Homo sapiens: one gene and its partner. The protein of the gene in region 1 interacts with the protein of each later gene in a pairwise test. Each region holds a gene or a part of one and is shown on either strand. Other genes may lie near its edges.

The links.
Region 2: the proteins of MAU2 (region 1) and NIPBL interact in binary tests that used the Homo sapiens proteins (3 or more experiments, as listed by UniProt).

The regions. Positions count from the first base shown.
Region 1 is NC_000019.10:19,313,548-19,327,339, reverse strand, and holds the start of MAU2 (MAU2 chromatid cohesion factor homolog), read right to left. Parts: upstream 6,512-13,792; 5' UTR 6,481-6,511; coding exon 6,205-6,480; intron 6,173-6,204; exon of another isoform or gene 5,437-6,172; intron 1-5,436. Other genes in the region: SUGP1 (SURP and G-patch domain-containing protein 1), read left to right, coding at 6,844-6,877, 10,747-10,918. UniProt on the Homo sapiens protein: Plays an important role in the loading of the cohesin complex on to DNA. Forms a heterodimeric complex (also known as cohesin loading complex) with NIPBL/SCC2 which mediates the loading of the cohesin complex onto chromatin.
Region 2 is NC_000005.10:37,061,459-37,072,780, forward strand, and holds the end of NIPBL (nipped-B-like protein), read left to right. Parts: intron 1-2,331; coding exon 2,332-2,520; coding exon of another isoform or gene 2,521-2,565; exon of another isoform or gene 2,566-3,068; coding exon 3,069-3,434; 3' UTR 3,435-4,955; downstream 4,956-11,322. UniProt on the Homo sapiens protein: Plays an important role in the loading of the cohesin complex on to DNA. Forms a heterodimeric complex (also known as cohesin loading complex) with MAU2/SCC4 which mediates the loading of the cohesin complex onto chromatin.

The DNA of each region.
Region 1 (13,792 bases):
TAAATAAATAAATAAATAAATAAATAAATAAATAAATACAAGTAGAAAAAATTAGCCTGGCATGGTGGCAGGCACCTGTAATCCCAGCTGCTTGGGAGGCTGAGGCAGGAGAATAGTCTGAACCTGAGAGGCAGAGGTTTTAATGAGCTGAGATTGCGCCACTGCACTCCAGCCTGGGCAACAGAGTGAGAGTCCATCTAAAAAAAAAAAAAAAAAAAGCTCCTGGGGAGGCTGTGTGTGGTGGCTCACACCTGTAATCCCAGCACTTTGAGAGGCCAAGGCAGGTGATTGCTTGAGGCCCGGAGTTTAAGACCAGCCTGGGCAACACAGTTAGACCCTAGCTCTATAGAAAATATAAAAATAAATACAATCAAATTTTTAAAAAGTTGCTGAGGAAAGGAAGACATACCCTCTTTGACTCTGATGGGGATTCTTTTTTTAAAGTTTTGAGACAGGGTCTCGGTCTGTTGTCCAGGGTGGAGTGCAGTGGCACGATCACAGCTCACTGTAGCCTCAACTTCCTGGCTCAAGAATTGTCTTGCCTTAGCCTCCTGAGTAGCTGGGACCAGAGTCATGTGCCACCATGCCTGGTTAATTTTTGTGTATATATATATATATGTATATATATATATATATACATATATATATTTTTTTTTGAGACAGTCTCGCTCTTTCGCCCAGTCTGGAGTGCAGTGGCGCGATCTCAGCTCACTGCAAGCTCCGCCGCCCGGGTTCACGCCATTCTCCTGCCTCAGCCTCCCGAGTAGCTGGGACTACAGGCGCCCGCCACCACGCCTGGCTAATTTTTGTATTTTTTAGTAGAGACAGGGTTTCACCTTGTTAGCCAGGATGGTCTCGATCTCCTGACCTCGTGATCCGCCCACCTTGGCCTCCCAAAGTGCTGGGATTACAGGCGTGAGCCACCGCGCCCGGCTATATTTTTTTTTCTGGTAGAGACAGGGTTTTGCTATGTTGCCAAGGCCGGTCTTGAACTCCTGGGCTTAAGCAATCTGCCCACTTTGGCCTCACAAAGTCTTGGGATTGCAGGTGTGAGCCACCACACCTGGCCTGATGGGGACATTTAATGGATGATTCTTTCAAAGTTAGTTGACTTGATGAAGTAGACGAGTAAGTATGTTATATATCTTTCTAGACGACTTAAAATGCAGTTGAGGGCCAGGCATGGTGACACACACCTATAATCCCAGCTACTCAGGAGGCTGAGGTGGGAGGATCGCTTGAACCCGGAGGGCGGAGGTTACAATGATTTGAGATTGCGCCATTGCACTCCAGCCTGGGCAACAAAGTGAGACTCTGTCTCAAAAAAAAAAAAAAAAAAATGCAGTTGAGGAGACCATTAGAAACTGACAGAAGCAGATAAAAGAGAAATAACCTTAAATAAAAATGTGATGACCAAGGAGGCTGGGGTCTCTTAGAGAGAAAGCAAAAGACAGTGAAAACAATAGGAAAGCTGGATGTAGCACTGAGTTCAGGGGCCAATAATAGGTTTTACCTAAGCACTTATGTTAGAGAAAATTAGTTCAGTGAAGAAGAGCAGAGAGATGCCGGGTGTGGTGGCATGCCTGTAATCCCGGCATTTTGGGAGGCTGAGGCGGGCAGATCACCTGAGGTCAGGAGTTCGAGACCAGCTTGACTAACATGATGAAACCTTGTTTCTACTAAAAATACAAAATTAGCTGGGCATGGTGGCACATGCCTGTAATCCTAGCTACTCAGGAGGTTGTGGTAGGAGAATCGTTTGAACCCGGGAGGTGGAGTATGCAGTGAGCTGAAATCGCACCACTGCACTCCAGCCTGGGTAATAGGAGTGAAACTCCTTCTCAAAAAAATGAAAAATAAAATAGGCTGGGTGTGGTGGCTCACACCTGTAATCCCAGCACTTTGGGAGGCCAAGGCGGGTGGATCACCTGACGTCAGGAGTTCAAGGCCAGCCTGACCAACGTGGTGAAACCCCTTCTTTACTAAAAATACAAAAATTAGCTGGGCGTGGTGGTGGGCGCCTGTAATCCCAGCTGCTTGGGAGGCTGAGGCAGGAGACTCGCTTGAACCCGGGAGGCAGAGGTTGCAGTGAGCCAAGATTGCGCCATTGCACTCCAGAGCCTGGGTGACAGAGCAAGACTACATCTCAAAAAATAAATAAATAAAATAAAAGTAACAATAAAAATAAAAAGAACAGCAGAGAGAATGAGCAAGGAGAAATGTCACAAACTATTGCAAAATACTGTTACACTGGGTTGGCTCTCCAAGAAGACACTGGAATCTCTTCAGCCATTTGCTTTTCAGAAGTAGAAACCAGCAAACCACCTCTAAGCGGAGAACATACGATTCTTTATTAAGTAGCTCTGGGGAAGGAAAGAATAAAAGTTGATAGCTCCCTGATTGGGAAAAAATGCACAATTAATAAAGAATGAAGATGAAAGAAAGCATGCTTATGTTGTAACACAAAAAAAATTCACAAACGTTGGTGGAAGGAAAACAGTATAGAAAACATTACTTTAACTAAAAGCTGGAAAAATTTTCAGTTGGGATGCGACTGACAAAAAGAACGGGATTTCCAGGCATAAAGTTGGCGTGAGCTACAGAGGGCACCATGTGGCTCAGTGGAAGACCCTTCAAGATTCAAAGTTCCATTTGACAGAGCAAAGGCACTTCGCAAGGAGAAGGGTTTAAATTATGGGTCCAAAAGCCAAGTGGTAAAGCGAGCAATTTGCAGCATGACTGCTTCTCCTAGACAGGGCTGAGTGGGCAAAATACGACAGTACACACAGTGACTATTAGCCACTGCCAGAAACAGGCTGAACAGCCCTGGGAGACAAGGGAAGGCAGGTGGTGGGAGTTGTTCATGGAGAGAAAGGAGAGTTTTAGAACCAGCACATCCACTGGAGATGCTGGGCCACCAGACCCCTCCCAGTCAATAAAGTCTGGTGCCTCATTTGATCTCAGCCTCATCATGACCCTGGAGAGACCCTGATACCATCTGCCAGTCCCCGACAGCTTAGGCACTCCTTGCCATCAACCTGACCCCCCGAGTGGTTCTCCAGGCTCCCTGCCCCACCCATTCAGGCCTCTGCTCAAATGTCACTCCCACAAATAGAGACTCTCTCACTACCTCTGCCAAAAATAGCTCCAAGTCAACTCCATCTCTTCTCCCTGGTTCAGTTCTCAAGGTTCTTCCATCACTGCCTAACCTCTTACTATATGCTTATCATTTGTCTTCCTCATGAAAACCTAGGCTTACGTGGGCAGAAACTGTTTTAGCCATTGCTGATCCCCCGGCACCAAAAATAGGGCTTGGCATCCTGCATGAGCTGAACAAGTATCTGTTGAATGAATCAAAGGAAAAAAAACTTCACCAAAACAATAATGATGTATCATCTTGGCATGTAACCTGGTTATCACTGAGCTGGAGTTTGAGCCTAGTTTTGTCAATAACTTGTTGTGCAGCCTTGGGCAAATCACTTTACCTCTCTGGGCCCATAATGCCTCCCTTTTGAAACAAGGCAGTTGATCAAGTGAGGACTAAAGTTGCCTTCCACGCTGGGCACAATGGCTCAAGCCTGTAGTTCCAGCACTTTGGGAGGCTGAGGCAGGTGGATGGCTTGAGCTCAGGAGTTCAAGCCCTTGTCTTTACAAAAAACACAAAAATTAGCTGGGTGTGGTGGTGCGTACCTGTGGTCCCAACTACTCAGGAGGCTGAGATGGGAGGACTGCTTGAGCCCAGGAGGTCAAGGCTGCAGTGAGCTGAGATCACGCCAGTGCACCCCAGCCGGGGTGATGGAGCGAGACCCTGTCTCAAAATAAATAAATAAATAAATAAATAAAACTGGCCAGATGTGGTGACTCACACCTATAATCCTAGCACTTTGGGAGGACAAGATGGGCGGATCACTTGAGGTCAGGAGTTCGAAACCAGCCTGACCAAATGGTGAAACTCTGTCTCTACTAAAAATACAAAAATTAGCCAGATGATGTGGTGCAAGCCTGTAATCCCAGCTACTCGGGAGGCTGAGGCAAGAGAATTGCTTGAACCCACGAGACGGAAGTTGCAGTGAGCCAAGACCGCGCCACTGCACTCCAGCCTGGTGACAAAGCGAGAATCTGTCTCAAAAAAAAAAGAAAAAAAATTATCTGGGGCTGGGCGCAGTGGCTCATGCCTGTAATCTCAGCACTTTGGGAGGCCGAGGGGAGTGGATCACAAGGTCAGGAGTTCAAGACCAGCCTGGCCAATACTGTGAACCCGTCTCTACTAAAAATACAAAAATTAGCTGGGTGTGGTGGCGCACACCTGTAGTCCCAGCTACTCGGGAGGCTGAGGCAGGAGAATCACTTGAACCCGGGAGACGGAGGTTGCAGTGGGCTGAGATCCTGCCATTGCGCTACAGCCCCGGCAACAAGAGCGAAACTCCGTCTCAAAATAAACAAATAAATAAAATAAAATAAAATAAAGTCTCCTTCCAACTTTTCAGTCTGTGAAACAAAGATTTGATCTATTCCTCAAGGCAAGTTGTTACTAGCTGAGGGTGGGCTTGGATTTACCTCAGATTAATGAGTTTTTAAAATCTGAGTTGATTCTTTTCAATAATTTTCTATTCAAGCAGGACAGAGCTGGGTAAAAGGTAAAAGGGAGGCAGGGGTCTGACAGGATCACAGCGCTGCTGTGAGAAAAAAACGACTCCACAGCCTGAAATTTTATTATTTTTTCCTTATTATCTTTTTTTTCTGAGACAGGGTTTCACTGTCACCAAGGCTGGAGTGAAGTGGCGTGATCACTGCTCACTGCAGCCACGACCTCCCGGGGCTTAGCTGATCCTCCCACCTCAGCCTCTGGAGTAGATGGGACTACAGGCCCGCGTCAGTACGCCCAGCTAGTTTTTGTATTTTTTGTAGAGACGGGATCTCACTGTGTTGCCCAGGCTGGTCTCAAACTCCTGGGGTCTAGTAATCTGTCTGCCTCCGCCTCCCAAAATACTGGGATTACAGACATAAGCCACTGAGCCTGGCCCTAGAAAGTTTATTAAAGGGGCCGGGCGCGGTGGCTCAAGCCTGTAATCCCAGCACTGTGGGAGGCCGAGGTGGGCAGATCATGAGGTCAGGAGATGGAGACCACCCTGGCTAACACGGTGAAACCCCATCTCTACTAAAAAATACAAAAAATTAGGCAGGCGTGGTGGCGGGCGCCTGTAGTCTCAGCTACTCAGGAGGCTGAGGCAGGAGAATGGCCTGAACCCGGGAGGCGGAACTTGCAGTGAGCCAAGATGGCACCACTGCACTCCAGCCTGGGTGACAGAGCAAGACTCCGTCTCAAAAAAAAAAAAAAAAAGAAAGTTTACTAAAGGGCAGAATGACAGCCACTCTCCCGCATTCTTTGAGGCACCAAGATGACACAAATCAAGTTGGGTCAGGGGAGGGACTCACTCTGACGGAAGAGGATGGACTGATGGATGGTAGAAGTCACCAGTGGATGGAGAAAAAGCAGGAGCTGCTTTTAGTTCCCCTAATACTGAAACTGAACAGCGGGGCCTGGAATCCAGAACCCCTGTTTCTCCTCCTCATAGGCCTCAAATGACCAACTCCAGACTCCGGGTCTCAGCTTCCCTCGTACGACACCAGGCATTATTGATGGGGGCACAAGACCCTCCAAAAACCACGATTACCAAACTTCTGTGTCCAAGGAGAATCATGCCCTTCCAGGTTCCTGAGAGACCAGACTTCAGATTCCCGGGAGAATGCCAGGGGTCTCGCCTTCGCCAACCCCTACCCCAAGTCACTTTAGGTGGAAGCGTTTGGGGCTGATGCTCCGGAAGCTGAACCAGGAGGAGCTAATAGCTTCAGGACCCTGTGATGTCCCCATCGCCACCAACAGGTGGGATCCTCCTGAAAACCAGACGATTTGCGGATCCTGTTGCTCCCAATAACAGGCAACTTTCAGAGTACGGTGACGGGGCTCCTGGAGCCCTGTCACCAGAAACGGGAAATAAGGCGTGGGGGGCGAGGCTTTCGTGTCCCTTGAGAGGCTGGTGGCTTTGGGGTCCGGCAGAGGCGGGTGGGGGTCCTGCGGCTTTGACGGAGGTCGCGCCCCCAGGTCGCCGAGGAGCGGCCCCCCACCCGCCGCGGTCGCGACCCGTCAGCCCAGATCTTGCAAGGAGCCCGCGACTCCTCCCTCGCGGCCCGGCCCGCGCTCACCGCCTTCTCCAGGTGGCTGCGCGCCTGCTCGCTGTTCTTGGTGTGGTGATAGAGAACGGAGCCCAGCTGCAGGTGTGTACGGGCCTCGATGCGCTGCGGCGGCTTGAAGGGGAACACGGCCTGCAGGCAGTGCACGCACAGGCGGATTTTGGGCGGGCTGGAAGTGCGGAAGTGCTCAGCGAAGCCCAGAAGCGCCAGGTACCACGAGTCGGCCGCCTCGGCCTGCGCAGCCTGGGCCGCCGCCGCCTGGGCCGCTGCCGCCGCCTGAGCCGCCATTTTGGCCTCCACAACAACAAGCCGCCGCCACAGGGAGGCGGAAGCAGGCGCGCGAGACGGGGCCGGGCTCTCCTCGCGGCTTCCGCGAGATCTGCCGCCCAAAGCATCCTGGAACATGTAGTTTGTATTTGGGATGACTGCCGCTCCGGGAAGGTGTAAAAGGGCGACGCCGTTTGGTTATCGTGACTGGGACTTAGGCATCGCTGATAGGCTGAGGCTTCCGTTTCTGGAGGTTAAAAAAAAAAAAACCCAGTCGTTCACGCAGTAATAGGGCGAGTCTGACCGAGGCGGACTACATCTCCCATCAGGCGATGCACACTATAACAGGGCCCCTTAAGGGGCGCCGGAGCATTGTGGGATTGGATGAGTCTCAAGATGGACAACCGGGATGTTGCAGGTAACAGCCCCCGCCTCCTCTCAGGCGGCCGCCTGGGTCCCTGGGGCTAGGTGTCTCCCCTGACTCCTCGGGTCCGTCCTGCTGCGACCCGTGGATCCCTCGCTTCAGCCCCGGGGCAGCCCACAGCGTCGGCTTCTGCACCTCTTGGTTTCTCGAGACCCCAGACCCAGGTTGCTGGCCGCCCCCGCTTGGTTTGCTGAGGACGCACGGATCTCCGTAGAGGCCGCCACCCGGCTCGGCCCTGCGTCCCGTTTCCGAAACAACCGCCTTCAGGGCTGCTCCAACCTCCGTTCCCCAATACGGCGACAACCTTGGGCTGTCCCTGCACCCCTCTTTTCGTCGCAGCTGGCCTCTGGCCTGTGTCCCGCTTTCTGGAAAAGCTGCTTTTCCGAAGTGCTTTGAGGCTCCCTTGACACACTTTCCCGCGTCTTTTGACCCTCACTTTGCTGCAAGCCTTGGCCTTTCTGCTTCCCCAGAATAGAATGCATTTACCCATCAGCAGATACTTAGGGCGTGCTCACTGTGTGCCAAGCAGTGTGCTGGGCGCTACGCATGCAGCGGTGACCGAAACAGGGCCCTGCCTTCCTGGAGGTTGCTTTCTACTGGGGTGTCAGTGCATTAATGAGAAAATATTTACAAAAACTTACGTATGATGTGAGGTTACGTATGATATGATCAGAGTGGAGGCTTCTGATATTGGGTAGTCAGGAAAGACCTTTTCTTTCTTTCTTTCTTTTTTTTTTTTTTTTTTTTTTTGAGACAGGGTCTCACTTTGTCGCCCAGGCTGTAGTGCAGTGGCTCACTGTGGCTCCCTGGGTTCAGGTGATCCTCCCACCTCAGCCTCCCTAGTAGCTGAGACCACAGATGCGCGCCACCACACAGCGAATTTGTGTGTTTTTTGTGTTGCCACGTTTCCCATGCAGGTCTGGAATTCCTAGGCTCAAGCGATCCTCCCATCTCAGCCTCTTAAAGTGCTGGGGTTACGTAAAGGTGTGAGCCACCACACCTGGCCCAGGGAAAGGCCTTTTCAAGCAGAGGACATTTGAGTTAAGACAATGAATGCCAGCTATGGGAATCCCTGGAGGGTGGAGCCTTCCACACAGAGGGGGGCCAGTAAATGCAGAGGCCCTGGTAGGATGGGCTTGTCCTTTTGAAGAATGTCAAGGATGAAGCAGAAGGGAGGGGAACCATCTGGCGGGGCCTTGAAAATGGCCTTTTAGAATTCTTTTTTTCTTTTTGTTGAAGCGGAGTTTCGCTCTGTCGCCCAGGCTGGAGTGCAGTGGCACGATGTCGGCTGACTGCAACCTCTACCTCCCGGGTTCAAGCCATTCTTCTGCCTCAGCCTCCTGAGTAGCTGGGATTACAGGCGCCGGCCACCGCACCTGGCCAGTGTTTTTGTGTATTTTTAGTAGAGACGGGGTATCACCATGTTGGCCAGGCTGGTCTCGATCTCCTGACCTCAAGTGATCTGCCTGCTTCAGCCTCCCAGGTGCTGGGATTACAGGTGTGAGTCACCATGCCCGGCTCAGACTTTTAAAATTTGGATTTTATTCTGAGTCCCATGGGGAACCTCTGAGGTGTCTTCCCTGTCTCCATACTATCACCCTAGTCTGAAGACATCATTGTCTGTTGCTTGGAGCCAGTGAGCCTCCCTGGTCTTGTTGCCTGTGGATTCTCTGGCCAGAATGATTACCTAGTAGCCAGGATGAAAATAAAACGACCCTGTGGATATTGGCTAGGTGTGGTGATCCATGCCTAAAATCTCAGCATTTTGGGAGGCTTAAATGGGAGGCTCCCTTGAGGACAGGAGTTCAAGATTAGCCTGGGGAACATAGCAAGAACCTGTCTCTACAAAAAATAAAAGAAAATAGCTAGGCCTGGTAGAGTGTGCCTGTAGTCCTAGCCACTCGGGTGGCTGAGGTGGGAGAATCTCTAGAGCCCAGGAGTTTGAGGATGCAGTGAGCTACGATCATGCAACTGCACTCCTGCCTGGGCAACTCAGCGAGACCCTGTCTCAAAAAAACAAAACAAAACAAAAAAAACGGCTGGGTGTGGTGGCTCACGCCTGTAATCCCAGCACTTTGGGAGGCTGAGGTGGGTGGATCACTTGAGGTCAGGAATTCGAGACCAGCCTGGCCAACATGGTGAAGCCCCATCTCTACTAAAAATATGAAAAAATTAGCCAGGCATGGCGGCAGATGCCTGTAGTCCCAGATACTCGGGAGGCTGAGGCAGGAGAATCGCTGGAACTCTGGAGGTGGAGATTGCAGTGAGCCAAGATCGCGCCATTGCACTCCAGCCTGGGGGAAAAGAGCAATACTTCATCTCAAAAAAAAAAAAAAAAAAAAAGAAGGCTGGGTTCGGTGGCTCACGCCTGTAATTCCAGCGCTTTGAGAGGCGTAAATTGGAGGTTCCCTTGAGGACGGGAGTTCGAGACCAGCCTGGACAACATGGCGAAATCCTAACTGTACTAAAAATATAAAAATTAGCCAGGTGTGGTGGCTCACGCCTGTAATCCCAGCTACTCAGGAGGCTGAGGCAGGAGAATCGCTTGAACCTGGGAGGTGGAGGTTGCAATGAGCCGAGGTGGTGCCACTGCATTCCATCTTGGCTGACAGAGTAACAGTTCGCCTCAAAAAAAAAAAAAAAAAAAAGCCACTGGGGCACGGTGCCTCATGCCTGTAAATCCCAGCACTTTGGGAGGCCAAGGTGGAAAGAATGTTTGAGACCAGCCTGGGCACTATAGCAAGACCTCATCTCTATGAAAAAATTTAAAAATTAGCCAAGTGAGGTGGTGCATGCCTGTAATCCAAGCTATTTGGGAGGCTGAGGTGGGAGGATTGCTTGAGCCGGGGAGGCGGAGGCTGCAGTGAGCTGAGATCACACCACTGCACTCCAGCCTGAGAAACAGAGCCAGACCCTGTCTCAAAAAAAGACCCAATGGATCTTGCATTCTTCATCTTAGTGCTTCTCCATCACTCCCCAAAGCCCTTATAATAAAGCACAGATGCTCTGACATGCCTCACCTCTGCCTGTCCCTGGAGCAGGCCCCTCTGACACTGGGCACTTGCTGCTCCTTGGATGTACCAGGCTTCTTCCTGCCTTGAGCTTTCACATCTGCTCCTTCTTCTGCCCAGATCATCTCCCATTTGGCTTTTCATGACGCTGGCTTCTTATTTGTTTTTTCTGGTTTAAATGTCTCCTCTTCTAGTGTTTATTTTCTGCCTGTCCTACCTGCATATGTACTCTCCTGTTACTTTTTCACCCTTTTTTGGTTTTCAGCAGAGCTCTTACCACATTGTGCACTTACTTTTTTTTTTTTTTTTGAGACAGAGTCTTGCTCTGTTGCCAGGCTGGAGTGCAGTGGCACCATCTCGGCTCACTGCAACCTTCACCTCCCTGGTTCAAGCAATTTTCCTGCCTCGGCCTCCCTAGTAGCTGGGATTACAGGCACATGCCACCATACCCAGCTAATTTTTGTATTTTTAGTAGAGACAGGGTTTCACCACGTTGGCCAGGCTGGTCTCGATCTCCTGACCTCAAGTGATCCGCCTGCCCCTGCCTCCCAAAGTGCTGGGATTGCAGGCATGAGCCTCTGCACCAGCCCGAAAGTTACTTTTTTATTATGGGTCTATTGTCTTCCCAGCCTGAAGCGAGTCCCACGTGGGCAGAGACCTGTGTTCTCTTGCATAGCACGTAGTAAGTACAGGGTATGGTATGCAGCAGGCACTCTGTAAGTGTTTGCTGAATAAATGAACTAATAGACATATAAATTAATCTGAACATCAGTTGCTCTCTGGCCTGTCACAGCTTCTTGGGGTGTTTGTGGAGTAAGGGTGATTTCCGACGTACTCCTTTTCCCTCCCCAGGAAAGGCTAACCGGTGGTTTGGGGTTGCTCCCCCTAAATCTGGAAAAATGAACATGAACATCCTTCACCAGGAAGAGCTCATCGCTCAGAAGAAACGGGAAATTGAAGCCAAAATGGAACAGAAAGCCAAGCAGAATCAGGTGGCCAGCCCTCAGCCCCCACATCCTGGCGAGTAAGTGCCTGCTGGGGCCTGGATGGGGCCTGGATGTGAGTCTTTGAGGGTCACCAGCACAGGGTTTGGCTTGTGAGGGCAGTCAGCATGTGCTTGCACCCAGCCATAGCCTGATGATCCAAGGAATGACCCAGATGCCCTTGGGAGGCTCACTGTGGCAAGAGAGAAATGAGGGGTATGTGGAAGCCCAGAGGACAGCCTGCCAACTCATCCACTCAGCAGTTATTTACTGCCAGCCAGCTGTGGTGCAGAGGGAAGGGGTATAACAGAGTAAAAATCTCTGCCTTGAGTTCAGGTGTGCTGCCTCACACCTGTAATCTCAGCCCTTTGGGAGGCTGAGACAGAGGATCACTAGAGGCCAGGAGTTTGAGACCAGCTTTGCCAACATAGTGAAACCCCATCTCTACTAAAAAATACAAAAAATTAGCTGGGCATTGTGGCACGTGCCTGTAGTCCCAGCTGCTCAGGAGGCTGAGGCACGAGAATCTCTGGGATCTGGCAGGCAAAGGTTGCAGTGAGTTGAGATCGTGCCACTGTACACTACCCTGGGCCATAGAGTGAGACTCTGTCTCAAAAAAAAAACAAAAAAAAACCTCTGCCCTTATGGGGTGACAAACTACTGGCAAAGGGATGCAGGTGCCGCCCCAGAGCTCCTGGAAGATAACAAAGGCAGTGTGTTCCCAGGCCCCGTGGCCACAGTAAGGCCACAGAGCTTTGCATCCTGAAAGCCCAGGTGGAGCTGGCCCACTGAGGAAGCAGAGAAAGGCCTGCCCAGCAGAGGGCAGGAAGGGGAGAGAGCCCATATGTGGAGGGCCAGCCTGAGCTGCTGTACCAAAGGGGCTGTCCCTTAGTGGATGGCAGGTGGATGATAGCTCAGCAAGGGTTTCCACTTGCCTGTCCTGAGAAACACTGAGGGCACCAAGGGTTTTGATCAAGGGGTGATGTTGTGATGAGGGTGACCAGATCCAAGCTTTTCAGGCTGGAGATTGATAATCTGAGAGGCAGGCCCCTTCCTCTGGGGTCTGGAGTGTAGAGTGTGTTAACCTTCCCCAAGGCCTTGTTCCAGCTCCAGCTTTTCCTTTTTTTTTTTCTTTGAGACAGGGTTTTGCTCTGTCACCCAGGCCGGAGTGCAGTGGTGGGATCATGGCTCACCGAAGCCTTGAGCTCTTGGGCTTTAGCAGTTCTCTTGCCTCAGCCTCCCAAGTAGCTGGGACCACAGGCACGTGCCACCATGCCTGGCTAATTTTTTTCTATTTTTGTAGAGATGAGGTCTTGTTATGTTGCCCAGGTTGGTCCCGAACTCCTAGACTCAAGTGATCCTCCCACCTTGGCCTCCCAAAGGGATTACAGGTGTGAGCCACTGCACCCAGCAGCGTTTGCCTTTTCTTCTTTCTTTTTCTTTTTTTGTTGCCTAGGCTAGAGTGCAGTGGCACGATCTCAGCTCACCACAACCTCTGCCTCCAAGTTTCAAGCGATTCTCCTGCCTCAGCCTCCCAAGTAGCTGGGATTACAGGCATGCGCTGCCACGCCCAGCCAATTTTGTATTTTTAGTAGAGGCGGGGTTTCTCCTTGTTGGTCAGGCTGGTCTCAAACTCCTGACCTCAGGTGATCCGCCCCTCTCAGTCTCCCAGAGTGTTGGGATTACAGGCGTGAGCCACTGCACCCGGCCAAGAACCAGCATTTTTATCTCCCAGTATTTGTTACCAGTGGTTTTCAGGTGGGAGCCGTTCGCTGTACTCTGCAGCCTGAATGTGATTTCTTGTCTTTCCTTGTCCCTACCTCTTCCTGGTCCCTCCTGAGTGAAGTGCTCAGGGTGTGAGTATGGGGGCAGGCCCAGGAACTGAGGGGTGCCCAGAATGTCCTGGTTGTTTAGTGTCAACATTGAACCTTCTTTTTCATATAAAATTACTTCTACTCCTTCTTTTTTTAAACTTTAAAGGTAATTCATGTACATGGTAGGAAATCCAGGAAGTAGAAGAGGGGTAAACAAAAAACCAAAGTCACTCATAACTCTGCAACACAGAGACAAGCACTGGTTGAGTGTTGAGGTGTTTTTCTGTTTTTTTTAATTTTATTTAATTAATTAATTTATTTATTTTTGAGACGAGTCTTGCTCTGTCACACAGGCTGGAGTGTAGTGGTGCCATCTCGGCTCACTACAACCTCCGCCTGTTGGATTCAGGAGATTCTCCTGCTCAGCCTCTCGAGTAGCTGGGATTACCAGTGTGCGCCACGATGCCCGGCTATTTATTTATTTATTTATTTATTTATTTATTTTATTTTTTGAGACAGAGTCTCACTCAGCCGCCCAGGCTGGAGTGCAGTGGTGTGATCTTGGCTCACTGCGACCTCCGCCTCTTGGGCTCAAGTGATTCTCCTGCTCAGCCTCCCGAGTAGCTGGGATTACAGGAACCCACCATCGTGCCCGGCTAATTTTTGTATTTTAGTAGAGATGGGGTTTCATCATGTTGGCCAGGCTGGTCTTTAACTCCTGGCCTCAGGTTGTTCCTCCCACCTCGGCCTCCCTAAGTGCTAGGATTACAGGCATAAGTCTCTGAGCCCGGCCATTTTTTTGTATTTTAGTTGAGACAGGGTTTCACTATGTTGACCAGGCTAGTCTTGAACTCCTGGCCACAGGTGACCTACCCGCCTCTGCCTCCCAAAGTGCTGGGATTACAGCCTTGAGCCACCGTGCCGGGCCTGTTTTATTTCAGAGGCAGGATCTCACTCTGTCACCCAGGCTGCAGTACAGTGGCACTATCATAGCTCACTGCAGTCTGGAATTCCTGGACTCAAGCTATCTTCCCACCTCAGCCTCTTGAGTAGCTGGGACTACAGATGTCCACTGCCATGCCTAGCTAATTTTTAAATTTT
Region 2 (11,322 bases), on another chromosome or scaffold:
CTTGAGCTCAGGAGTTTGAGACCAGCCTGGGCAACATGGCAAATCCCCGTATCTATAAAAAATACAAAAAATTACCTGGGGGCAGTGGTGTGCACCTGTAGTCCCAGCTACTCAGGAGGCTGAGGCAGGAGAAGTGCTTGAGCCTGAGAGGCAGAGGTTACAGTGACCTGAGATTGCACCATTACACCCCATACTGGGTGACAGGAGTGAAACCCTGTCTCAAAAAAATTATTTAAAAAGCATAGTATTTGCATATAACCTACATACATCCTCCCATATGCTTTAAGTCATTTCTAGATTACTTATAATACCTAATACAATGTAAATGCTATATACATAGTTGTTATACTGCATTTTTTTTAAGTTGTATTTTTTATTGTAATGCTGTTTGTTTTGTTTTGAGACGGAGTTTCACTCTTGTTGCCCAGGCTGGAGTGCAATGGCGCGATCTCGGCTCACCGCAACTTCTGCCTCCCAGGTTCAAGCAAGTCTCCTGCCTCAGCCTCCCGCATAGCTGGGATTACAGGCGCCAGCCACCACGCCCGGCTAATTTTTGTATTTTTAGTAGAGATGGGGTTTCACCATGTTGGCCAGGCTGGTCTCAAACTCCTGACCTCAGGTGATCCGCCGGCCTCCCAAAGTGCTGGGATTACAGGCATGAGCCACCATACCTGGCCAGTGCTGTTATTTTTTATTGTGGCATTTTCCAAATAGTTTTTGATCCACTGTGGGTTGAATCCGCAGGTGCGGAATCCGGGGATACAGAGGGCTATGTTTTTAATTCAGAAAAATACATGGCTTATATGTCATAAAAGGTAAAACTGCAAGCAGTCATTCTCTTACCGTGTTTGGCTATTCTGTTCCTTTCTTTTCTGATAACCAATATTATTACTTTTTCGTATGTTCTTATATGAGTAATGCCAATATATATATATGTAGATTTTCTCACTTATCAAGTATGCAAATGTATGTATATAAAATGTGCTTTAAAAATAGAGACAGATAATAGACTAGAGGTTACCAAGGACCGGGGAAGGAAAGAACGGGGAGTTATTGTTTAATGAGGACAGCTGTGGTTTCCAGTGATTAAAAAAAAAAAGAAACAGCTCTGGAAATGGACAGTGGTGATAGTTGTACAATATGCCAATGAATTATACATTTAAAATGGTTAAACTGGTAGGCTGGACATGCTGGCTTATACCTGTAATCTTAGCACCTTGGGAGGCCTATGTAGGAGGTTTGCTTGAGTCCAGGAAGTCCAGGCCAGCCTGAGCAACAGGGTGAGACCCTGTCTCTACAAAAAATACAAACATTAGCCAGACATGGCGGTGTGCACCTGTAGTCCCAACTGCTGGGGAGGCTGAGGTGGGAGGACCACCTAAGCCTGGGAGGTGGAGGCTACAGTGAGCCATGATCGTGCCACTGCACTTCAGCCTGAGTGACAGAGTGAGACCCTGTCTCAATTTAAAAAGAAAAAAAAAAAGGGTTAAGCTGGCAAATTTTATGATATTTCTATTTTATCACAATATAAAAGTTTTTAAAAATGTTTTTGAAATTAGAGGACTATCCTAAAAAATAAAAATAAAGTTTTATATTTTAATCTACTTAATTTCAGGTGTAGTGGCTCACAAGCACTTTGGGAGGCTGAGGTGGGCAGATCACTCGAGGCCAGAGGTTTGACACCAGTTTGGCCAACATTGCAAAACCCCATTTCTATTTTTCTTAAAAAAATTTTTAAAAATCTACTTTAAAGCAAGTAGCTGAACATAAAATAAGGTTTTTTGAACTAAGAATATAATCTACACAGTGGCTTTTCATATTATTCATTGACTGCAAACCTTACTCTAAAATTTAAAAATATTTTAGTTCTTATTTAAAATTTTTCAACATTCTTTGCTTTCTCTTGTATCGTCTTAGCAGAGAGCAAAGAGGGGAGATAACTAGAAAATGTCTATCAGTAATTATCACCTGATTGCTTGATGACTTGGACCAAGGGTCTGAAAACTCTGGCTGTTTTTGTATCTAACCCATTGCCTGTTTTTGCAAACAAAGTTTTATTGAAAACATTCATGCCCACTCATTTATTTGTCTGTAGCTGCTTTCATACTACAGTGGCAGAGTTGGGTAGTTGTGACAGACTATTTGACCTTCAAAATGAAAAATATTTACCACCTGGCTGTTTACAGAAAATGTTTACTAGCCCCTAATTTAGATGATGGCTAACGTCTGTTTCACCCACACCAAACTACTGCCATAGAAAACATTTAGGAATTTGACAATCTTGCTTGAAATATTTACTTAAAATTCTGAAATAATATCTGTTTTTTGTAGTTCAAACTTCTCATGGAACATCTGGACCCTGATGAAGAAGAAGAAGAAGGGGAGGTTTCAGCTAGCACAAATGCTCGGAACAAAGCAATTACCTCACTGCTTGGAGGAGGCAGCCCTAAAAATAATACAGCAGCAGAGACAGAAGATGATGAAAGTGATGGGGAGGATAGAGGAGGAGGCACTTCAGGGGTGAGGCGGAGGAGGAGTCAACGTATTTCGCAGCGTATTACGTAAAATGATTTTTATGTGCTTATATATGTCAGTCTATTAAATGTACACCAAGTAATGTAATACTTAAAAGAGAAAACATTTTGTAGATAGAGATTCTCTACTTACCCGTTTATACATCCTTTTGTAGAAAGTTTAACATAAAAGACAATAAAAAAACAGAAATGAGATTTATCCAGCATAAAGGGTTAATTTTTCTTTGAATTGTATTAATGTGTGTTATTTTTATTGTTGCTAAGTTTTATGTAGCTATATGGTTCATATGTATATATAATTTTATATATCAATAAGAGTAAAGACACGGGTACAAATTAAGAGTTATATGGTTTTACAAGTATATGTTAACCCCTTGGCGCTGGCGGTCACGGTGCGTCTCATTGCCGGCAATGGAAGTGTGCCGGGAAATCCCAACTCCCGGCGTCAAGGGATTAAAAGCAATAAAAACAATAATTTCACTAAAATTCTTTTGTGTAACACTTGGTCTTTTTTCCCCCCTCCCAATGTTTTAGTCATTGAGAAGGTCAAAACGAAATTCAGACTCTACGGAGTTGGCAGCACAGATGAATGAAAGTGTTGACGTCATGGATGTCATCGCTATTTGCTGTCCAAAGTACAAAGATCGACCACAAATTGCAAGAGTAGTGCAGAAAACCAGCAGTGGCTTCAGTGTTCAGTGGATGGCAGGCTCCTACAGTGGCTCCTGGACTGAGGCTAAGCGCCGTGATGGCCGCAAACTGGTGCCTTGGGTAGACACTATTAAAGAGTCAGACATTATTTACAAAAAAATTGCTCTAACGAGTGCTAATAAGCTGACTAATAAAGTTGTTCAGACTTTACGATCCCTGTATGCCGCCAAGGATGGGACTTCCAGCTAATGAATTTGTACATGCAGCCAAATTTACAGGAATTTTTTTAAAAGGCAGAAAAACTTGAAATACCAACATTCTGGCAAAAAAAAATCAGTTTTATGAAGAGTAAGTGGAACCTGGGATGCAGGAACAAAAGAAGGAAATGTTGGGCAAACATTTTTGTGGGAGCTCCCTTCGCTGTTGTGCAGCAGAAACAGATTCTCAGTTCATTTTTACTCCCACTGTATTATAGTTTAACAAAAATTGTTTATATCTTGGAAAAAAAACTTTCTGTTTAAAAAAAATAAACAAGTGAATGTTGGAAATTAGTCTGTTAATGTTCTTAATAAAGTGTTCTTGGAGTTTAACCTAGCAGCGGATGGCTTTCTTTAGCTTAGCCCAGTTTCCAGGGAAGCATTGTTTTTTCCAGGCTGTAAAATGGCAGAATCTCCTGGATATATAATTTATTCTGTTGAAAAAAAAAAAAGCATGCAGTATCTATGACCTATCTGCAGAAGGAGTTTTTGTAAATGTAGATTTTGATGTATTAGGTCACCCTGAAAACAATACAAGAAAAGGGATCCCCAGGTAATCTGGTGGAGCGAATACTGCAATAAATTTTTTTACTTCTCTTTGTTACTTGTCTGTTTCCATTTGAATTTCTTATTGTAAAAATCTGTTTAAATCCATTTATATTATTTTACAGTCTTTTATGTAAAATTTATTATATCACTGGTTTTCAAAGCAAAACATAAAATATTGTTTATACAGTTTGTATAGGCTGACTTCTGAATAATTGGTATCTATTATTTTCATTCCCATAAGAGGGTGTAAACAATTAACTCCAGGGTTTTATTGTATCCTGCAATATTTAGTATTAACTATATATGATTTAGCACTGTGCCAAACACATTTTCAAGAGTACATTTTGATATAAAAAGAAACTATAGTTTATTCCTTGTATGCTTCAATTTCTTTCTAGTGATGTCATGATGCTGATATTTATTCTTTAAACCTCGGGTAAAGGTAACCTGTTATTTGGAAAACCAGCATTTCTCTTGGTTAAAATGATGTCCGGTTATTTTAGAACTAGAGTTGAGATGAATATGACACTTCATAATTACACTCACTACATTTTTCACAAATTATTTTTTAATGCTGAAAAGAGTAATTTTACTTGTTGAGATGTTTATTCATTTTCTAATCTATGCTAAAAGCTTTTATCATAAGTCTTGGGAACAGTTGTCATTTACACATTACTTACTGCAGATATCTTGACTAAATCAGGAGGGAGGTGTTTAATCATTTGATATGTATAGTTGACACTCAGGAATAGTAATGCCTAAAATTTACAGTGGATGAGGTCTGTTTCAAGTTTAATTCTTTTTAAAAATGTTTTACTTATTTTTAAATCACTTTGAAAAAATTGACCTCCAGAATGCTGTTTTATGAAATTGGCAAATAAATGAAGGTATTCAATTTTTGAGGAAGAATGACATTGCCACAAAATACCTTTTTGTGACACCTATTAAACCACTATGAAAATAACTTTTCAGGATCTATTTCCTATGTGGAATTCTTTCAAATGCTTTCTTCACGGAAATGTTTTCTCACTCTTCGTTTTGTTCCCCTTACTTACATGTTTCTCTTTTCCTTATACTGTGAACTCTGGAACAAAACTAGATTGGGTTGGTTGGTTGGTTGGTTGGTTCTTCTTGGAGTTTATGTATATCAACAAAGGATTTGAGGTCACTTCTGAGAATAATATATCAAAAAGGGTACTGGTTAGAGAAAATATAAGAATAAAATCCAGCCCAGAGAGAGTACTAAGAATGTAAATGTGAGTAAAAAGCCAGTTTTGAATTCTATTTACGTGACAGTGATGCATGCTGTCATTTAATTCTCACAAAAACTCTCGTTATATATTTTATCCTCATTTTGTAGATGAGGATAGCAGGCTTAGAAGGATTTGGTAATTTACTAATGTCATGATAGGGATTTAAATCTGGAATTGAAGTAATTGTGTCTCACTACTCTAAGCTAATTGAACATCAGACATTAAGAGAGATGATCCTTATTGAAGTAAACCAGTTCCTAAAGGATCCTTGTAGTATACATACTTGGGAATCCTGTTCAGAGTAATTTTTAGGAAGTAGGTACACAGTAGTAAGTCTTCTGTTGCCTCAGTTGGCCATAGATGGAATTCTGTGTTTGCCACTCATTAGAAATTTAGGAATTTTAGGCAGGGCACGGTGGCTCACACCTGTAATCCCAGCACTTTGGGAGGCCGAGGCGGGCAGATCACCTGAAGTCAGGAGTTCAAGACCAGCCTGACCAACATGGGGAAACCCCGTCTCTACTAAAAATACAAAATTAGCCGGGCGTGGTGGTGCATACCTGTAATCCCAGCTACTCGAGAGGCTGAGGCAGGAGAATCGCTTGAACCCAGGAGGCGGAGGTTGCGGTGAGCCGAGATCACGCCATAGCACTCCAGCCTGGGCAACAAGAGCGAAACTCCATCTCAAAAAAGAAAAAGAAATTTAGGAATTTTAGGAATCAGTTTTGAAATTTTGTATATATTCTAAGCTCCTATTTTATCTGTTAATAGAAGCCAAATGTTAATATAAGCCTTAACTCTTAAATATACAAACCAAAATTTTCAGAAAGTTGAAGATTCTTCAAGATGAATTGTTAGGTCTTAACACTATTAAAGCTTTGGCAGTCAAATATACAAAATCAAACTTTAAGTATATTGGGGATTCACAAAGTTCTATTAAGTATTTAGAAAGTTCAGTCTTACTCTATAGTGTGTTGATTAATTACCATAGATTAATCTTGTTATATTGACTTGAAAAGATAGGTTATATTTGATATAAAAATTTTCAAGTATCTCTTCACTTTTTAAGTACATTAATATGAAATTTTAGCCTTATTGAAATTGTTTATTAAGAAAGAATGGCTAGTTTTAAAAATATGTTCATACCAAAATACACATGGCAGAAAATTCAGTGATCTCTAGAATTTTCTAGATGTAGTAATCTCTAATGGAAGAAATGCTGAGTTTTTTGAGAGAAATATATAGCTTACTCTGTTGATAGGTTGAGTATTTGAATTATTCAGGTAACTGAAGCACACAGGTGATTTTTATGACCATAGTCTGTCTCATGAAAACAGGTAAGTCAAACTGATGTTTGTTCAATACAGATTTCATGATCAGCAAGCAAATTTACCGTATTTTTATTTAGAAATAAATTAACCAGGGAAGTATGTGGTTCTCCCTCCCCTACCCACCACTTTTAGTTGCACAGAAAAATTCATCCTTGTCACTACCTGTGTCCAGGTGGTCTGCATCTTCAGAACTGTGGATATGGATAATTGGAATAAGATTACTTTTGCAAATATAAAACTCATCAGATTACCCACTTGAAATAATGTAATTTGAAACACTTGATAGTAATTTTTGCCCCATAAAAATCCTACGTGTTTGAACCTTTTGCTGTTTGCCTTGCTCATTTTAAAACCAAAGTTTGTTTAGTCCTATAGCTAATGTTTGTCATAGGCAGCATTTGTTACAAAATGATTTTACTAATTTTTCACTTGAATTTTTTTCTGAAATACAGTCTGTCCTATTGGTGCTAGCCGAGAAACAATTACATGCAAATTTAGTGTAATAGAAAGTCACTGACCAAACAAATTCAGTTTGGTACTCTGTTGACTAAGTGGTCATAAAGTTCCTGTGTGTTTTGCATGATGATGTGAGTACCAAGCCACCCTTCGTTTTTAAGACCCCAATTGTATATGGCTTCACTGCTGAGAGTGGTACGGTGTACACAATTATTTTTCTTATAAGAATTTTGTAAATTATTTTTACTTTAAGAGAATCTCCATTTACCCATTCCTCTGTTTCAGTCATTCTGAATTTCTGACCAAATTTATTTGAGCTGTACTCCATGCACCCCTTTCCACTCTTTCTGAAACAAGTCTCAGGCATCATTTTATTTTATCCATAAATAGGTTATCTTTTTTTTTTTTTTTTTTTTTTTTTGAGACGGAGTCTTGCTCTGTCGTCCAGGCTGGAGTGCAGTGGCCCCATCTCAGCTCACTGCAAGCTCCGCCTCCCATGTTCACACCATTCTGCCTCAGCCTCCCGAGTAGCTGGGACTACAGGCGCCCGCCACCATGCCCGGCTAATTTTTTGTATTTTTAGTAGAGACGGGGTTTCACCATGTTAGCCAGGATGGTCTCAATCTCCTGACCTCACGATCTACCCACGTCAGCCTCCCAAAGTGCTGGGATTACAGGCGTGAGCCACCGTGCCCAGCCCCATAAATAGGTTATCTTTAAATATTCTTCCTTGATATCAAATATCCAGTAAGTGTTTAAATTTTTTATTTTCTCATAAATGTCATATTTTTTAGGTCCTTTCTGTAGGCTTTCTCATGTCTTTTTATTCCTTGCAAATTTCTTATATTGAAAACACAAGTATTTTTCCTTGGGTTCTTAAGTAGATTCTAGGGGCTGGGCGCGGTGGCTCATGCCTGTAATCCCAGCATTTTGGGAGGCCAAGGCGGGCGGATCAAGAGGTCAGGAGTTCAAGACCAGCCTGGCCAACATGGTGAAACCCTCTCTCTACTAAAAATACAAAAATTAGCTGGGCGTGGTGGCACGCACCTGTAGTCCCAGCTACTTGGGAGGCTGAGGCAGGAGAATCACTTGAACCCAGGAGGCGGAGGTTGCAGTGAGCCGAGATTTCGCCATTGCATTCCAGCCTGGCGACACAGCGAAACTCCGTCTCAAAAAAAAAATAAATAAGTAGTTGATTCTAAATGGAGAGTCTAGTTGTTTTCTGATTTTTAATCAGTTTTCTTACCTGAAGTTATTGTAGGCTTGAGAGATATTGGATCTCTTTCAAATTCATAAGTAGCTTGAGCCTGTATAACTAGAACAGAGTACCACTACAGAGGTAATGAAGTACGGAGATAGGTCCACTTTTCAGGAAGATGGTGATAAGCATTGATTAATCCTTTGATTTGGAGTTGGCAAATAACCAAGCAGGCAGTTGGAGATAGAGATTTAAAGTAAGGAAATGGAAGCTGAACTAGATGCCAGAGGATGCCCTATAATCAGAGTTCCTTTTGTTGGTCAGTAATTTTGTAATACATACTGCTTGAAATAAGTTGACTGCAGGCTATGATTTTTTTAATGATACAGCTTTCAGGGTGTTACAGTTTTTGTTGAATGGAATTTTGCCCTTTTGTGACTTTTTTCAGTCATTGTTTAAATCTCAATCACATAGAACTTAAAATGAAAAGTTAGTGTTGCTTTATCAAACCCTTTACATTGACCTTTCTTCTGCTAAGAAATACCAGAGTAAGCTTTTCTTGATTATAACATGCCTAGAATTGTAATTTAGCCTTAACCTTACTAGATTTAAATCCTGGAGCAAAGAACAGAAAAAGGTTATTATGGTCTAAGTTTGTTATAAAATTTAAACCAATAATGGATCTCCAATTCCATAGTTTTAAAAATATTTATACAGTCATATGAGAGATGGCAAATAATCTGAAGTTTTTAATCACTTTGGAATTTACTAACCCCTTTGAGAATATAATGAAAGCCGAGAAATCTCTCTCCTTAGAAAATAGAATAAGTTCATATTCAGAATTGTGCATAAAATTTCAAGGGGTTCATGGACATCCCCATCCCATTTCCGTCTTTGGCCTATCTTGGGAATCTATGGAATGACTACAGGTTTAAGAAGGTGAAATTAAGGCTCAAAGAGGTGAATTGATATCACCAAGCTGCATACCTACTTATTGCTAGAGTCAAAAGCAAAACTGGGTTCTTATCTCCCATAAGGAAGATTTAACCTTGGGAAGTTCTTATTCAGTCTCCTGTTAAGATCTGAATGTAGGCTACTTAATGACTAAATTTTACTGATTTTTTTTTCTATACCTTTTCAAAAGATCCACGTTTTGTGTTCTCAGATTTTGTGATGCCTACCATCCTATTAGGTAGAAAAGGGAAAATGTGATATTTTATTGTGTTTTAATTATTTCTACATCACCTGGCTTGATGTAGAAGACTAAAACTTAGGTTAGTGAAAAAGAGTATTAACTTTGAAGTCAGAAGACATAGTCATAGCCATAGACAAAGCCATGGGTTTCTGAAACAAGTGTGAAATGAAATGTAAACAAAATCACTTAGCTTATTTTGTGGAAGCTTATTTAAAGAAATCTATACTTAGGTTTTGTGTAGACACATTAGAGAGAGAGAATCAGAATGCTGGGTTAAGTGGGGAGATGGGGGATGGAATTCTGAAAGTGGGAGCAGCATAGTGAGTAGAGGAGCTGGCGTGCGTGTAGTACAATGTCAAAAGATGAAGCCATAGAAAGGAGAGATAAGTATGCAATTTTGATAACTTTAGTAATGTAGTAATATAATTTGATCATTTTAATGTATAGGCAGTTGAAGGGCTCAAGGGATTGATGAACGATCACTCTGCTACATAGGGGAAAGACAAGGATGTCAAGAAGAGGACACTAATGCAATAGTCTCAGAAATAGAGACTGAACTAGGAGGATGATGGCAGTAGGGATGAAGATTGGAGTGATCTGCAAATGTATTTAGGAAATAAAAACATCAGGACAAGGATAGCTATCAGATTTCTTTGGCTTAAGTCACCAGGTTCAATTTTAAATATGTTGATAGTGCCTGTGGGACATTCAGGTGATGGTGATGTTCAGAGGTGGGAATATACACAAGCATGACACTTGGGTAGCCAGGGTGGGGACCCTATTGGAGTCAACAGCATTTAAGCTGTAGAGTAGGAGCAGCACAGAGCAAGGGGAGGATCTTGGAGGCTACCAACGGCTAAGCTATAACTACATAGAGTACTGAAATTCTGAGAAGGGAAGCTGGGGAGGGAAGCAAATAATAAAGCATTTAAAATGTCACATTTAGGAATTTGGAAGAGCTTTAAATGGGGTAAGATAATACTAAGGGCTGTAGTTCAGAAAGATCAGTAATTGGCTACAATGTAGAGAAATTGTGGTGATGCCAAACTGCATGATTGTATTGTTTTTCTCCAGTAGTACTCAGCTCCCAACAAAGAATTGAGTATGGCATCAAGCCAGGATGCGGGGATAGCTCTAGTTGAAGAGCTAGATTCAGAGAAAATGGAAGAATCCAAGCTCAGAAGTCTCCATGAAGTGGGAGAGCAAGTATGAGTGTGAGCAGCAGATGTGGAATAATTGGATGATATGATCAGAGAAAGGGATGTAAGAGATTCCTGAGAGCAGTTCTGGGTGCAAGGTATAGAGTGTGGCCTTGGGAATTAATTAGTAAAGTGAAGAGTTGCATTGTGGAGATCAAGGAATCACATGGTACATTCTATACTCCTTTCCTGAGCTAAAACAATGGCTTATTCTTTCTTTGGTACTGACACTGGTTTATTATCTTTAGTTTTTGCAGATTCCATCATTTGACAAGTATTTGCTGAGTGCCTACTATGAGCTGTGCTGCACCCATTGGCAGTAAGTTTGCATTCCAGTAGTGGAGACAGGAAATGACCACAAAGTACACAATTTAATAACAACTGAGATGTGTGCTTGAAAGGAAAAGTAATAGAAGCCAGGAGAGTATGTAGCACTGACATAGTCTGGATGGTTGAGGGAGATCAGAAAGGCTTCCTTCTCCAAGTGAAACATTCTCAGATAAAGCAGGACATGCAACAGACATAACAGATACCAAATAATGTCTGAACTATTGAGAAATAGGAAATGATTTTTGTTTTAAATTGCAGGCTGGGTGCAGTGGCTCATGCCTATAATCCCAACACTTTGGGAGGCTACGGCAGGCAGATCACTTGAGCTCAGGAGTTCAAGACCAGCCTGAGCAACATAGCAAATCTCTT